Regions from separate parts of the Homo sapiens genome. Here all the other regions are reported to be linked to region 3. Evidence: microRNA targets listed by miRTarBase, many of them from high-throughput screens and not tested one by one. Region 3 holds a microRNA gene; each other region holds the end of a gene's coding sequence. Distances are between the middles of the regions.

Evidence for each region. Region 3 holds the annotated microRNA hsa-miR-329-3p (AACACACCUGGUUAACCUCUUU, at 1,801-1,822, opposite strand). A microRNA usually pairs through its seed, bases 2 to 8, with sites in the 3' UTR of a target mRNA and lowers its output. Matches are read on the target gene's strand: a 7mer-m8 pairs with bases 2 to 8, a 7mer-A1 pairs with bases 2 to 7 and ends in A, and an 8mer does both.
Region 1: the mRNA of ZNF496 is a reported target of hsa-miR-329-3p. Seed matches in the 3' UTR shown: 7mer-m8 at 1,317-1,323 and 7mer-m8 at 1,476-1,482.
Region 2: the mRNA of DNAL1 is a reported target of hsa-miR-329-3p. The part of its 3' UTR that is shown has no 7-base or 8-base seed match.
Region 4: the mRNA of WAPL is a reported target of hsa-miR-329-3p. Seed matches in the 3' UTR shown: 8mer at 1,348-1,355.

What each region holds. Positions count from the first base shown.
Region 1 is chr1:247,297,689-247,300,840 of GRCh38, reverse strand. ZNF496 (zinc finger protein 496) reads left to right here. Exons shown (of 10, transcript NM_032752.3): 10 at 1-3,152. The coding sequence ends at 322. Among named protein-coding and RNA genes, the nearest start is that of ZNF496, 33 kb to the left of the region's middle. RefSeq lists enhancers at 120-1,018, 1,019-1,918.
Region 2 is chr14:73,695,572-73,698,571 of GRCh38, forward strand. DNAL1 (dynein axonemal light chain 1) reads left to right here. Exons shown (of 8, transcript NM_031427.4): 8 at 331-3,000. The coding sequence ends at 371. Among named protein-coding and RNA genes, the nearest start is that of PNMA1, 17 kb to the right of the region's middle. RefSeq lists an enhancer at 2,359-2,528.
Region 3 is chr14:101,025,504-101,028,655 of GRCh38, reverse strand. It overlaps MIR329-1 (microRNA 329-1), which reads right to left and starts at 1,871; the gene lies at 1,792-1,871. LOC124903407 (mucin-2-like) reads right to left here. Exons shown (of 5, transcript XM_047432049.1): 5 at 1-3,152. It overlaps MIR1197 (microRNA 1197), which reads right to left and starts at 3,092; the gene lies at 3,005-3,092. MIR323A (microRNA 323a) reads right to left here and starts at 2,924; the gene lies at 2,839-2,924. It also overlaps MIR758 and MIR329-2.
Region 4 is chr10:86,434,900-86,438,021 of GRCh38, forward strand. It overlaps WAPL (WAPL cohesin release factor), which reads right to left. Exons shown (of 19, transcript NM_015045.5): 18 at 3,021-3,116; 19 at 357-2,709. The coding sequence ends at 2,644. Among named protein-coding and RNA genes, the nearest start is that of GRID1, 70 kb to the left of the region's middle. RefSeq lists a silencer at 3,113-3,122.

The DNA.
Region 1 (3,152 bases), not on the chromosome of region 3:
CCGGCGGATACACCTGCAGCCGGACAGACTCCAGCCGGTGGAGAAGAGAGAGCAGGCGGCATCCGAGGACGCGGACAAGGGTCCCAAAGAGCCGCTGGAAAACGGCAAGGCCAAACTGAGCTTCCAGTGCTGTGAGTGTGGGAAGGCCTTCCAGCGGCACGACCACCTGGCTCGGCACCGCAGCCACTTTCACCTGAAGGACAAAGCCCGGCCCTTCCAGTGCCGGTACTGCGTCAAGAGCTTCACGCAGAACTATGACCTCCTCCGCCACGAGCGCCTGCACATGAAGCGCCGTTCCAAGCAGGCTCTGAACTCCTACTGAGCCTCTCCGCCTGGGGCGGCCTCACCCTGGCTGGTGCTGCCCCCTCACCTTGGTACTGATCAGCGCCCCCACCCAGGACATACCTTCCCCAGGATAGAGAGCACACCTCCCTCCTGTCCTTGCTCTCAGGTAGTGAGCGTTCGGGTGGTGCCATGGGAGCACTCTCCCTCCCCCAGGTAATGAAAGAGTGGCCAAGTGAGTGTTCTGTTTCTGCTGTGCCAAAAAACGGGGGGGATGTGCCATCACCAGGTTGGACATGCCAGGTGTTCTGCGTCTTAGAGACCCTTGGCCCATGCTCCCCAAGCTCGGGGAGTAAAACTGGGCTATCCCCCGTCAGGGCGGCACCCTGGTCACCAGCCAAACCTCAGTATACTCCCTCCCCTCCTTCCCTGTCTGAACGCTAGGATCTGCTCCTGAAGCTCCAGGATGCCTGCACTTCCACTGAGAAGCTGCTGGCGGATGTTGGACTAGAGGAAAGAAGAAGGCAGGGTGGGACTGATGGGCTCAGTGGGGAGCAGGGCCAGGCACACTGAGCCAGACATGTCATGTCTGAGCCCCAGATTCGTGGCCATCAGGTAGGCAGGAGCACCCCGCAGATCCAAGATGATCAGGCAGCCCTTTTGGGCTGGCCTCTGTGGCAGGGGTCTGCAGAGCTCCTTCTTGAGGTTTGGAAACAGTCGTCATACCTGTTGATTTTCCTGGGGGCCAATCACTAGGGATCTGGAGCTCACCAAAAACAAAGCTTACATTTTAATTTGTGTTGCACACCTACCCCATAATGTCTTTATACCCCAAAGATCCTTGGTAAATGCTTGTGGGTTGGAAGCGGAGTTGTCATCGTTTAAAAGGCACTTAAGTCCCTTCTTCCAATCTGTCCTGTCTAGGAATGTGGAGCTCTGCCCCCAGTGAGGGGTTCTCCTGTCTGGGTGAGCCAAGCTCCAGAACAGAACCTTGCCTGACAACACACTTGATAGATACATTAGCTTGGAGTGCTGGTGTGTCCAAACACTGGCTGGCTTAGAACAACAGGAGTGTATTCCCTGACAGTTCTGGGAGGTGCACGTCCAAGATCAGGGTGTCCTCAGAGTTGGTGCCTTCCGAGAGCTGTGAGGGAGAAGCGGCTTCATGCCTTTGCTGGCAGTTGCCATTCCTTGGTGTGTGGAAGCGTCACCCAGTCTCTGCCTTCATCTCCACATGGCACTCTTGCTGTGTGCGTGTCTGTCTCCAAACCTCCCTTTGTTTAAGGACACCAGTCATATCGGATTAGAGCCCATCCCACCGACTCCAGTATAACCTCATCTGTATCCGCAGCAACCGTTTACCAATAAGGTCACATTCTGAGGTACTAGAGGTTGGGACTTCAACATCGGAATTTGAAAGGGACAGCATTCAGCCCATGACTCCAGATAAACGTGAGGTATGCTATATCATTCCTAATTTACAGATGAGTCAATACAAACTTGAGTGAGCTTGCTCACAATTCCATCAAAGGCAGGGTTCAGACCCAAGTTTCAGCATTTAGGGCAGGTGTCCTCTGCATGGAAGAATCATACTCAATAGCCGTAAACGCTGACAAATTCCCCTTCCTCCCTGCCTTCTGATGGGGGCTGGGCAGGCCAGCTGGAGCTGTGTCTCCTGCTGGGATTCCGGACTGAGAGTGACAGCAGGTAGTGAAACCTCAAGCAATTTAAAACATGGTATTGTTCCTGGAAGACTGGTTATGTTGGCTAGGGTCAGCAAGAGAGGGCATCAAGGCTGTAGTCTAGCAGTGATTTAATCTGCAAGTCAAACCAGACGGGTATTTTGTATTATTCATATGTCACATCCTACCAACAGACAGTAAGTCAGGCAAGGCTCCTGGTGCTCCTTGTCACTCACGTAATTTTCACATCAGGAAAACTCTGGGCTGGGTGCAGTGGCTCACACCTGTAATCCTAGCACTTTGGGAAACCAAGGTGGGTGGATTGCCTAGCTCAGTGACACCAGCCTGGGCCACATGGCAAAACCCCGTCTGTACCAAAAATGCAAAAAATTAGCTGGGTGTGGTGTTGACGTTTGCGGTCCCAGCTACTCTGGAGGCTGAGGTGGGAGGATTGCTTGAGTCTGGGAGGCAGAAGTTGCAGTAAGCCGAGATCATGCCACTGCACAAGCTAGGTGACAGAATGAGACTCTGTCTCAAAAATAATTAAAAAGCCTCTGCCCCAAACTCGTTAAAAGATTTTATAACCACAACTGCTGTTTCTGTGTAGATGCATCTGCATGCCCAGGAGCAGTAAATGCAATAAAATCATTTGGTTATACTTTGAACACAAAATAAACGGTTGAGGCTTTTACTTTCTAAATAGTTTGTCTCTTGTATCAACATAGCTGGAAAAGGGAGAAATCCGATTTTTAAGGCCAAGGGAGGGGAAAATTCCAAGTAGAAGCCAGGCTCTCTGTACACGTTTACCCCACCTACCTGTGTGCTCCTACCTGTGCTGAGGATTCTCTCTGTAGCTCTAAGGTCTTGGGAAGGTTATTCACCTTCCTGCTTCAGACGTCTGACTCAAGAGAAGAACACTGTTCTACTTACCAGAGTGTTTTTCTGTGTAAAACCACATCATGAAGGAGAAAGCGACAAAGGGAATGTGAGGGGCTGGAAGCCACAGGGAGGCTGTCTCTTGAGTCCCCACCACTGATCCAGAGCCAACCAAGGCACCTCAGGAAATGGAAGGCCACATTGCCTCTGGATTTGGAAATCCTCCTGGGTAATGTAACTGAAACCCAGGTTGATGCCATGCAGCAGGAGCAGCAGGGGGAACGTGCTCTCAGGAGAGGTCGGCCAACCCTC
Region 2 (3,000 bases), 27 Mb from region 3:
CAGGCTGGAGTGCAATGGTATAATCTTGGCTCACTGCAACCTCTGCCTCCCGGGTTCAAGCGATTCTCCTGCCTCAGCCTCCCAAGTAACTGGGATTACAACCGCCCGCCACCATGCCCAGCTAATTTTTGTATTTTTATAGAGACGGGGTTTCACCATGTTGGCCAGGATGGTCTTGAACTCCTGACCTCAGGTGATCCACCCGCCTCAGCCTCCCAAAGTGCTGGGATTACAGGCGTGAGCCACCGTGCCCGGCCAGGAAAATATTTTCATCTAGAATTTTAGCAATTTTTTGAGAATAACCAGTAATAATTTTCTTTTTCATTTTAGGTACTCCAGTAATTAAAGGGGATGAGGAAGAAGACAACTAATGCCACGCTTTCCACTGTGTGTTAACTTATTTAAATGTCATAAGAACAATAGATAAATTTTATATAATTGTCTATTTTAAAGATTCTGTATGGGACAAAAGTTTCTTAAGATAAAACAGATCACTCATTCTCATCTTTTTTTTTCCTTTAACTTATTCAGTGTTTCTCCCCAAAACTGGTAATGCCAACCTTATATATCCTATTTCTCTTTTTAGAAACCACAAATTTTCGATTTTTGTCTTCAGTCTCAGTTACGTACTGTGTAGCCCCATCTACTAAAACAAAACCTTTGTAGACCAGTCATTTTTAATAACAAAGGAACAAATGTTTTTTTCAGTTTGTTCATTTTTTTTAGGTTAGACATTTTAAAAGATGTACATTTGAAAATTCAGAACATTTTTCCTGAAGGTCTGTCTCTGTACAATTCAGAAGCACATGCCTTTAGCTCAGAAGGCAGCATGGTGATGGGAAGAGTTCCTCTTAGAAATACAGCAGGTCCGGAACCAAGACTCCAAAGTTCCATTGGAAAAGATATGGTGAAAAAAGGAAAAAGTAGTATCTCAGAGACCTTCTAGTCTATATTATACTTATTTGTTTTTCCAAAAATGTGCACATTGTCAACTGGAATTTAGGTTGTTTTTATATGCATGGCCACTTGAGTCATTGTGTACAGTCATTCTGTGATCTCAGTTAGTGGTTAAAATGACTGTCATGATCATTTCTTTGACTGATAATGTGGCAATGTTACTCATGTGGACCTCGCCTTAAGCACACATTTTGGTTTTATAGTTCCTTATGTGTTTAAAGCATTAGTTATATTTGAATTCCTAGACTAAATGCTGGCCATTGATGTATGTCAAAATTTACCCTAATTATTTGGTCTGGTGACCCTCATTGTTGGGAAAAGTGACTACCATGGTTATAAGTAAGGGTATAATGAAACTTAGTATTTCAAAATATATTTTTTGAGAAGTTCTAAGTTAAACAGCTCTTAAAATGTATTATGTACGTGGTTGTGGAGGGAAGGGAGATGTTTCATTATGAGATCCCAGGCAAATGGCAATATGTTTGAGGATTGTCTCCTACATAAAGCAGTGTAGGTGATTTAACCTCAAAATTGCAAAGCAATAGTTAGATGCAGAGGTTAGAATTTATCATGTAAACAAAAAATCCTTCAGGAAAATGTAAGACATTGTAGTCAGTAAGCAGATGAGGTCATAGGAGGCCATGGCTGGATCACTATTAGATTGCAGAAAAGAAGTCAGGGGCCCTCTGCCAAATTGTGCCTAAAGTCCCTCAGAGACTGTTGATTCTGGTTTCCCCATCTACTTGTGTGATTTTACTTGCATAAAATCACAGTGAAAGAGGGAAGAATCATCTTTAAAAAGTGATTGCATAAGTAGTCCTGGGTTTCAGAAGATTTCAGCTATCATTTACATAGGAATTACTTGATTTTTCTAAGTTACTCTGATCAAAAGGGACCACTGCTTTGACAATCAACTCTAAATACAAACAAGAGGCCAGGCGTGGTGGCTCATGCCTGTCATCCCAGCACTTTGGGAGGCCGAGGCGGGCGGATCATCTGAGATCAGGAGTTCAAGACCAGCCTGACCAACATGGTGAAACCCCGTCTCTACTAAAAATACAAAAATTAGCCAGTCCTGGTGGTGGGCGCCTGTAGTCCCAACTACTCGGGAGGCTGAGGCAGGAGAATCATTTGAACCCGGGAGGCGGAGGTTGCAGTGAGCCGAGATTGCGCCATTGCACTCCAGCCTGGGCAATAGAGCGAGACTCCATATTTAAAAAAAAAAAAAAAAAAAAAAGAGGAAAACTTGGTCTAACACCCTTTTAGTTTTCTTTTCTCTCTTCTTTTCAATCTGATAGGAAGAAACCTTATTCTACTCTAGCTGGTTTATGCATTCAAAGCCTTTGGACATTTCTTTTATGAACCATAGGCAATGAGCCTTCATTCTCCTTGGTGATGTTTTAAGTTCCATAAACTGAGAGGGAAGATGATCTTCTTAAAGTTTGCACTTCCTTCAGTAGGCAAGCTTGAAGCCATGTTGATATGGATATGTTTTCTAAAAGTAACCCTGGAAGTGAATATAATAGGAAGTAAGTGATTTCATATTGAATTTATTTGTAAAATGGCTTAGAGTTTTGGTGTTTGTTTTTTCTGAATTCTGTAATATAGAAACTGGTTCTCTTTCTCCTTGTTTCTCAATGACTTTTAATTACAGGTAGTTCTCAGACAAATGTAAGATACTTTTCTCTGTCCATTTCATGCAAAATTCATATTCAGTATCATTCAACAAATCTTTGAATGACTTCTATGCATCCCTGTTCATGGAACCCATGCCATTAGAAAATGGCAGTTGGGATGTATGAAGAAATGTAGGATATTCTCTCAAATCATTCCCTAAATTATCCTTTACTGCTGCAAATTTAGCTGATAAAACTGCCTTTGGTTTATGCCTCTTGGATCAGATATTTGACCTATGTGGAATAGATTATCTCTGTGCTTCCGGTTTAAGACATTACGCCATTTTAGTGGATCATTTAAATTTTTTCTATTCTGTTTTTTTTTGTTTGTTTGTTTGTTTGTTTTAAACAGAGTCTCACTCCCGAG
Region 3 (3,152 bases):
CTCTGCACCCTTGCCACCTGTCCTTTGACCCCTCCGTAGCCAGCAGAGCACCCAATCTACATGGACCCAGCAGCCGCCTACCCTGGATACCCCGGAGGCAACAGCATACTGCCTGCTGTCACATGGCCTTGACACACTCTCTCTGCCCTCTCTTTATGAGGGCTCTTTTCGGCTGGAAGGAACGGTGTTTGGGTATCAGCTAATAGGAAGGATTGGTGGCGGAGGTCATTGGTGCTACCTCATATGTTCTCTCTGGTTATAAAAAGCAGGGTTGACATGGAAATACCTGGCCCTTCTCCAGAACCTGAGGCCCTCCTCCCTCACAGTCCCATCCCCAAATGCCACAGATGAGCCGAGGACCCACAGTCACAGCTAAGTGCCATCAAAACAAATGCAGCACCAGCAAAACCTACTTCTGTGCCTTGGCTTTAGAGCTGGCAGGGAGCCTTTTCCTTCCCCAGAGGCTGGCATCACCTCCAGGAAGTCCTCCTGGAAAGGATCGGGCACCAAGCATTACTGCCAGACAGGACGCTTAGAACAGGGGAAGCACCCATCTCGGCCCACTCACCCTGGCCTGGGCCTGACAACTGTCTTATCCGGAAGCCTTCCAAACTGGTGTTTGATACTGAAGAGTGGTCCACAGAAATGATTTATATAAAAGAAACAGATATGCCAAAGGAAACCTCTCCTTGAGCACCCCAAAGAAGGACCATCTGCAGAAACACAACCCTGAGGGTAGGTCAGATGTGCTGGTCAGTGGAGCAGGTGTGTTCCTGGGGAGGTACATGCCCCGTGGTGGGCCATCCACTCCCTTCCCCTGGATCAGGGCTGGTGACAATGCCCTCCCTTCAAGCTGGCATGACATCAAGGATTCCTCCAGATTTAAAGGAAGTCAACTCCACAATTCCTGTGAGAAATAAACAGGTCTCAACCTGGGCCAATTCCAGGGCCCCCAAGGTCTCCTCTTGACCTCAGAATCAGCTTTTCTTCCCTAAGGTGTCATTATATCCAGGACATCCTTTCAGAATAAACTGCAGGCTAGGGGCAGGCGTGCAGGACACCTGCACTATCTGTCCAGGGCATGCTGGCATTCCCCTGCTGTGGGCTGGGCTCATTCAAGCCCATCACTGAGTGTGGCAAGGACGAGGCATCCCCCTACAGCAGGGTCAGATGCCGAAAGAGCCTGAATTACACACACGATCCGTTGGGAGCACAACGAAGGCAACCACAGACAACTCACCTGCATGTTCCGTGACACTGTCGTGGTGACACTGTCTTCCCCCAGGCTGCCATCACATTGAAAAGTCCTCCTAAGAAGGGATAAGACATTGAGGGTTAGCGCAATCGGTGGCAAAATTCAGAAACATGGGGCACGCTTAGTGATCAGCCATTTGCTCGTGTCTCCTTATTTATGTCCACAGCACCCCTTCCCTGAAGCTGAGGTCTGGACCAGAAGGCCTCCAAGATGGGATTTGATACTGGAAAAGAGGTTAACCAGGTGTGTTTCGTCCTCAATAAAGAAACAGAAACCCAGAAAACCTCTCTTCAGGTACCACCAAGTAACACTGACAAGAACACCACTGATTCCTTCCCCAAACTTGACATTCAGTCCTGGAAGTCCTGTTAAATACGGATTGGACACTGGGGTTAGTAGAACAGATGACATCAGTCAAAATAATACAGCACAGGCTTCGTGGTTAACCATAGATTTCTGTCCAGTGGACTGGAGCTGAGAGTAACGCCCTTCCCTGAAGCTGAGGTCTGGACCAGAAGGCCTCCAAGATGGGATTTGATACTGGAAAAGAGGTTAACCAGGTGTGTTTCGTCCTCATTAAAGAAACAGAAACCCAGAAAACCTCTCTTCAGGTACCACTGATTAACACTGACAAGAACACCACTGATTCTTCCCCAGACTTGACATTCAGTGCTGGAAGTCCTGTTAAATATGGAATTGCACACTGAGCGTTAGTTAGTTGATTTGCCGGAAGAAGCCAAGAGTTGGATGCATGCTGCTTGCCAACCATCTATCCAAGTACCCCAGTGGAGCAGACCCCACATCACGTCTGGAAGTTGACATCACAGCCAGAGGTGGTGATGCCATAAAAAGGCTGGTCACAGCAGCTATCGCGTTTAGGGTTAACCTCCAGGGCCATCTTTTCTCAGTTACTCAAGAGAGGCACAGATGCCCCAAAGCAAGGCTGACTCCACCAAAGGTCCTGCTAAGGACCCAGTGGAGACTGAGGTGTGACGGGCCAGGCGACCTTGGTTGTAAATTAAAGTGCATACACTCAGGTCAGCTGATCACTGGAGGACTTTGGGATGGTATAGACAGCATGCCCCTTCCCTTGAACTTGGATGCCTCCACATCTAGGAAGCCCTCCAAGGAAAGAGATCGGAGTGAAAATCAGTCCAACTCAGCCACATTTGGCATACATGTCGCAAACGCCTCGCAGATGCTCTCTTCAGAGTCTAACAGAGTGCAGCTGGCCCCAGTTTACTGTCTCTTTCCCAAAAAGTTGACACCTCTTCCAGGAAGTTCTCCAAGGGGGCATTAGATACTGAGGGTTAGTGGACCAGGTCACAAACGGCACAAATAAAGCGTGTGCTCTCTGGTCAACCATCTCATGTATCCAGGCACGTGCTGACACCACGCTCCTTGTCCGCAAGTTAACCCTGCTGCCAAGCCAGAGCAGTGTGCTGAGAAGAAGGCTGCCACACGTGAGTTATCGTCACACACAAGACAAACACATCACAAACCCCGCTGGGTCACACTGAGCGCAGACCTAGTGGCCCCCACCCCCGCAGTTGATGTTAGCTCCAGGAAAGCTTGCAAGGCGGGATTAGATACTGCAAAGAGGTCGACCGTGTAATGTGCGCCATAAATAAAGCGAACGCGCCACGGACCACCTCTCTCCAAGTACCAAGCAGCAGCCGTACTGACACCAGGACAGTGGCTCTTCCGCAAAGCTGATATCACCTCCTGGAAGTCTTCCAAGGCGAGATGTGATATTGAGAAGAAGTAGACCATGTGTCCTACGTCACAAATAAAGCGTACACACCATGGTCAACCGCATCTTCAAATACCAGGAAGTGACGCTGACCCCTGGCTCTCTTCCTTTCACCTGCTATCACCTCCAGAAAGCCTCACAATG
Region 4 (3,122 bases), not on the chromosome of region 3:
TAAATGCAGGATGCCTAAGGGCTGACAATTAAGAAGAAAACTGAAAAACTAAAAAGCAGTGTAAAACCTCAGAAGCAAAGATGTCTTGGATCATACTCATAGGAGCAAAAAATAACCTAAATCAAAACAGTTAAGTATGCCAAGGGCCTAACTGAAAATCCAGTCCCTAATTGGCCTGAGTTGTTGAGTTCACATTATATTCAGATGAGTATTATTAAAAACATGGAGAAATAATAAAATATTTAACAAAAACTGGTTAAATGTGTTAAGTGATAGTGTATTTCCCATTAGAGTCGGCTATATATAAAGTTTGTGACACTTCTGTCCTCCAATAGACTTATGTTAAAGACAACATGTGTATTGAAAGTAGCAATTTTATTTGAGTTAAAATTATTTACAAAAACCCAAAGACATACTTCATGAAACTGGTACAAACTATTTTTTCCTGCCGTTGGCTTTTGCTCCAAAGATCACAGCTGAGAAATACTGTATAAAATAAAAATAGGATTGGATTCAGAAAAGTACTCTACTGTTCTAATTTCCAATTGGTAGTATTTACAGAAATATTTACAATGGAAAAAAGGTTACTTTAAAACTTTTAGTTAAGTCAGCCTCAAGTACCCTAAAATGCAGAGTTCTCTGAGGGTTAAAAACACACAAATGCACTGCAGTTGGTGAAGTGATTATCTCCCCCACCACCTCCCCCCACCAAAATCTGCATCTCTATCAGTGCTCGACAATTAGTTATTATTTAAAAAACAAAACAAAACAAAAAACTGTTAAACACTGAGGTAAATCAATTTTCAAATGATTACCAGTGTAACAGAAAAATGCAGTTCGCCCTGATTGTTCTCATCCAAATGTTTTATAATATTCCTTACCATCTGCCACAAGTCAGGTTCACCAAAAATCTGTCCCTTTCCCTAAATCCAATGATTAATAAATATCAATGTATTTTGCATTTTAAAATAAAATATAACTAATTTAATTTTACGGGTATCATTTACCAATATGTTTTTAAAAGTATTTTGCTAAGCTAGCTTTAATACTCAGGGCAAATACAATCTCAATGGTTCCCACGTTACACTGGCGTACTATGTTCTTAAAAGGTGATGGGTAGGGGTTGGGGTGGGTAGAAGGAAGAAAACAATTTGCCTGGAATCAGTTACTTCCTTACAGATTTCCCAACAATCTGCATTATCAAAAATAGGAAGACAATAGAAGGCAGCCACTGCATTTAAAAACATTACAGCTGGCACTGATACAAGAGCCCCGATTTGTCACTTTATACAAGGAAATAACAAAGTCTAAATGGGTAAAAATTAGACTTTTAGCTATTTTCCCCAATACACACCAAACTAATATTTTTATGGCTTCAAGTTTTACAAATCCAATGAAGAAACATGATGTAACTACCTGAAAGGTATTTAAAAGTATTAATGAAAAAGATCTCTAGAAAGCCTGTATTCAGGCCCAATCAATAAAAAAGGAAAAAAAAAAGTATAACCAGTGGTGTGAATAATACAAGAAAAATTTGCAATGTTATGATATTAAATCTATAAAATGTTTTGTGTTCCATAACTGTTTTTCAAATAACTGCTCTACGAACAAAGAATCTGAATGAAAAAAGGGTCTTCTCTAAACCAGCAATTTAAGGCTTTGCGCTTATGCAATTGATCCTGTCACTCTATAGAAGAATATACATGTTATCTGGAAACAGGAATTCCACATTGGTGTTTTAGCTTCCTTATATTTATTGTACTGAACATTAGAAAATATATCTAGAGAGTCTTTCCTCAAAATCTAATAATGTTTTAAGAGCCTCCCTAGCATTAAGTGTAAACTACCCTGGGTTTGACTATTTTGCCTCCTCCTTTTAACAGGGCACATCATCTTATATAATATTCTCTCAAACTGTTGTTTTTCTTGTGCCTATAGCTATGACACATTATGGTATGATATTGAATATGGTTGTGGTCTCAAAAGTAAAAAATAGTTCAATAACCCAAACCTAATCAAGAATAAAAAAATATACTATTAATCCCGTGTATCTTTGGATTCCATCTAATTTTAAATATAGACAGTAGTTCAGGGAACAACAACCAAAAAATTCACAAAATTATTAAAAGCTTTATTTACGATTGGAATCATTCAACAAAAAAGCAAAAGCAAATGAGCCTGAAAAAGGAACTAAGCTGTTGTCTAGAATGTCCTCAGAACATTCGCTACCTCAGTAGCTAAGCTGCCTTTGCACCTGGCTGGCATGACAACAGTGGCTCAACATACACAGCAGTTGCACTAACAGCAGCACAAATTTTCCCCTTCAAACTTGCCCAGAATAAAGCAAGAAAACAAGGGGAGGGTATAAACTCTGCCAAAGTAAATGTATTTAAATACTGCATGGAATTGTTAACAGCCTGAACCTTTTCCCCTCATTTTTGATAGTTGCAGATTGATGTAGTAACTGTCATTTAGCAAATGCCGAATGCATGACGAAGAAATCAGGTGGCCTTAAAAATCCAAACACGAATGATACTGATGAATGTTCTTGGTATATCTTCAAGGACTTCTTTCATGACTTGACTTTTCTTTGTCTAAGGATAGCTCCAGCATTACCGAGCACCTGAAGCAAAGGTAAAGCAGCTAGCAATGTTCCAAATATTCAATCACTCTAGAGATAGATTTCTGGCCAGTTGTTCCAACAGCACACTGAAAGCAGGGTGAAGGGGAAAGGAAGTAACAGTTAATATTTAACAGATTTTAAGAAGTATAAATAAAAGTTTACCTCTAGATTTACTAAACTGAACACTACAAATCAAAGTACACCGAGATTAAATTGTGGGTTTGATAAAGTTATTTGCCATAACATGCAATGATTACCTTGAAGAAATAGAACACGATTATTAAAATTAAAAGAAAATCCCTTTTTGCTCCCACTTACTATGGCCATAGTATTTTTATGTCTACTGTCAATGTATTATAAATTTAAAATCATATAAGCTGTAATAAAAGCTACTTACAGTGAGATTCATAAAACTCAAAAATTTTTTGAGCATCTCTGTCATTATTGAAAAGTCTCCTTCTGGCAGATATTCCCGCACAGTGGTTACATTGATCTGAGG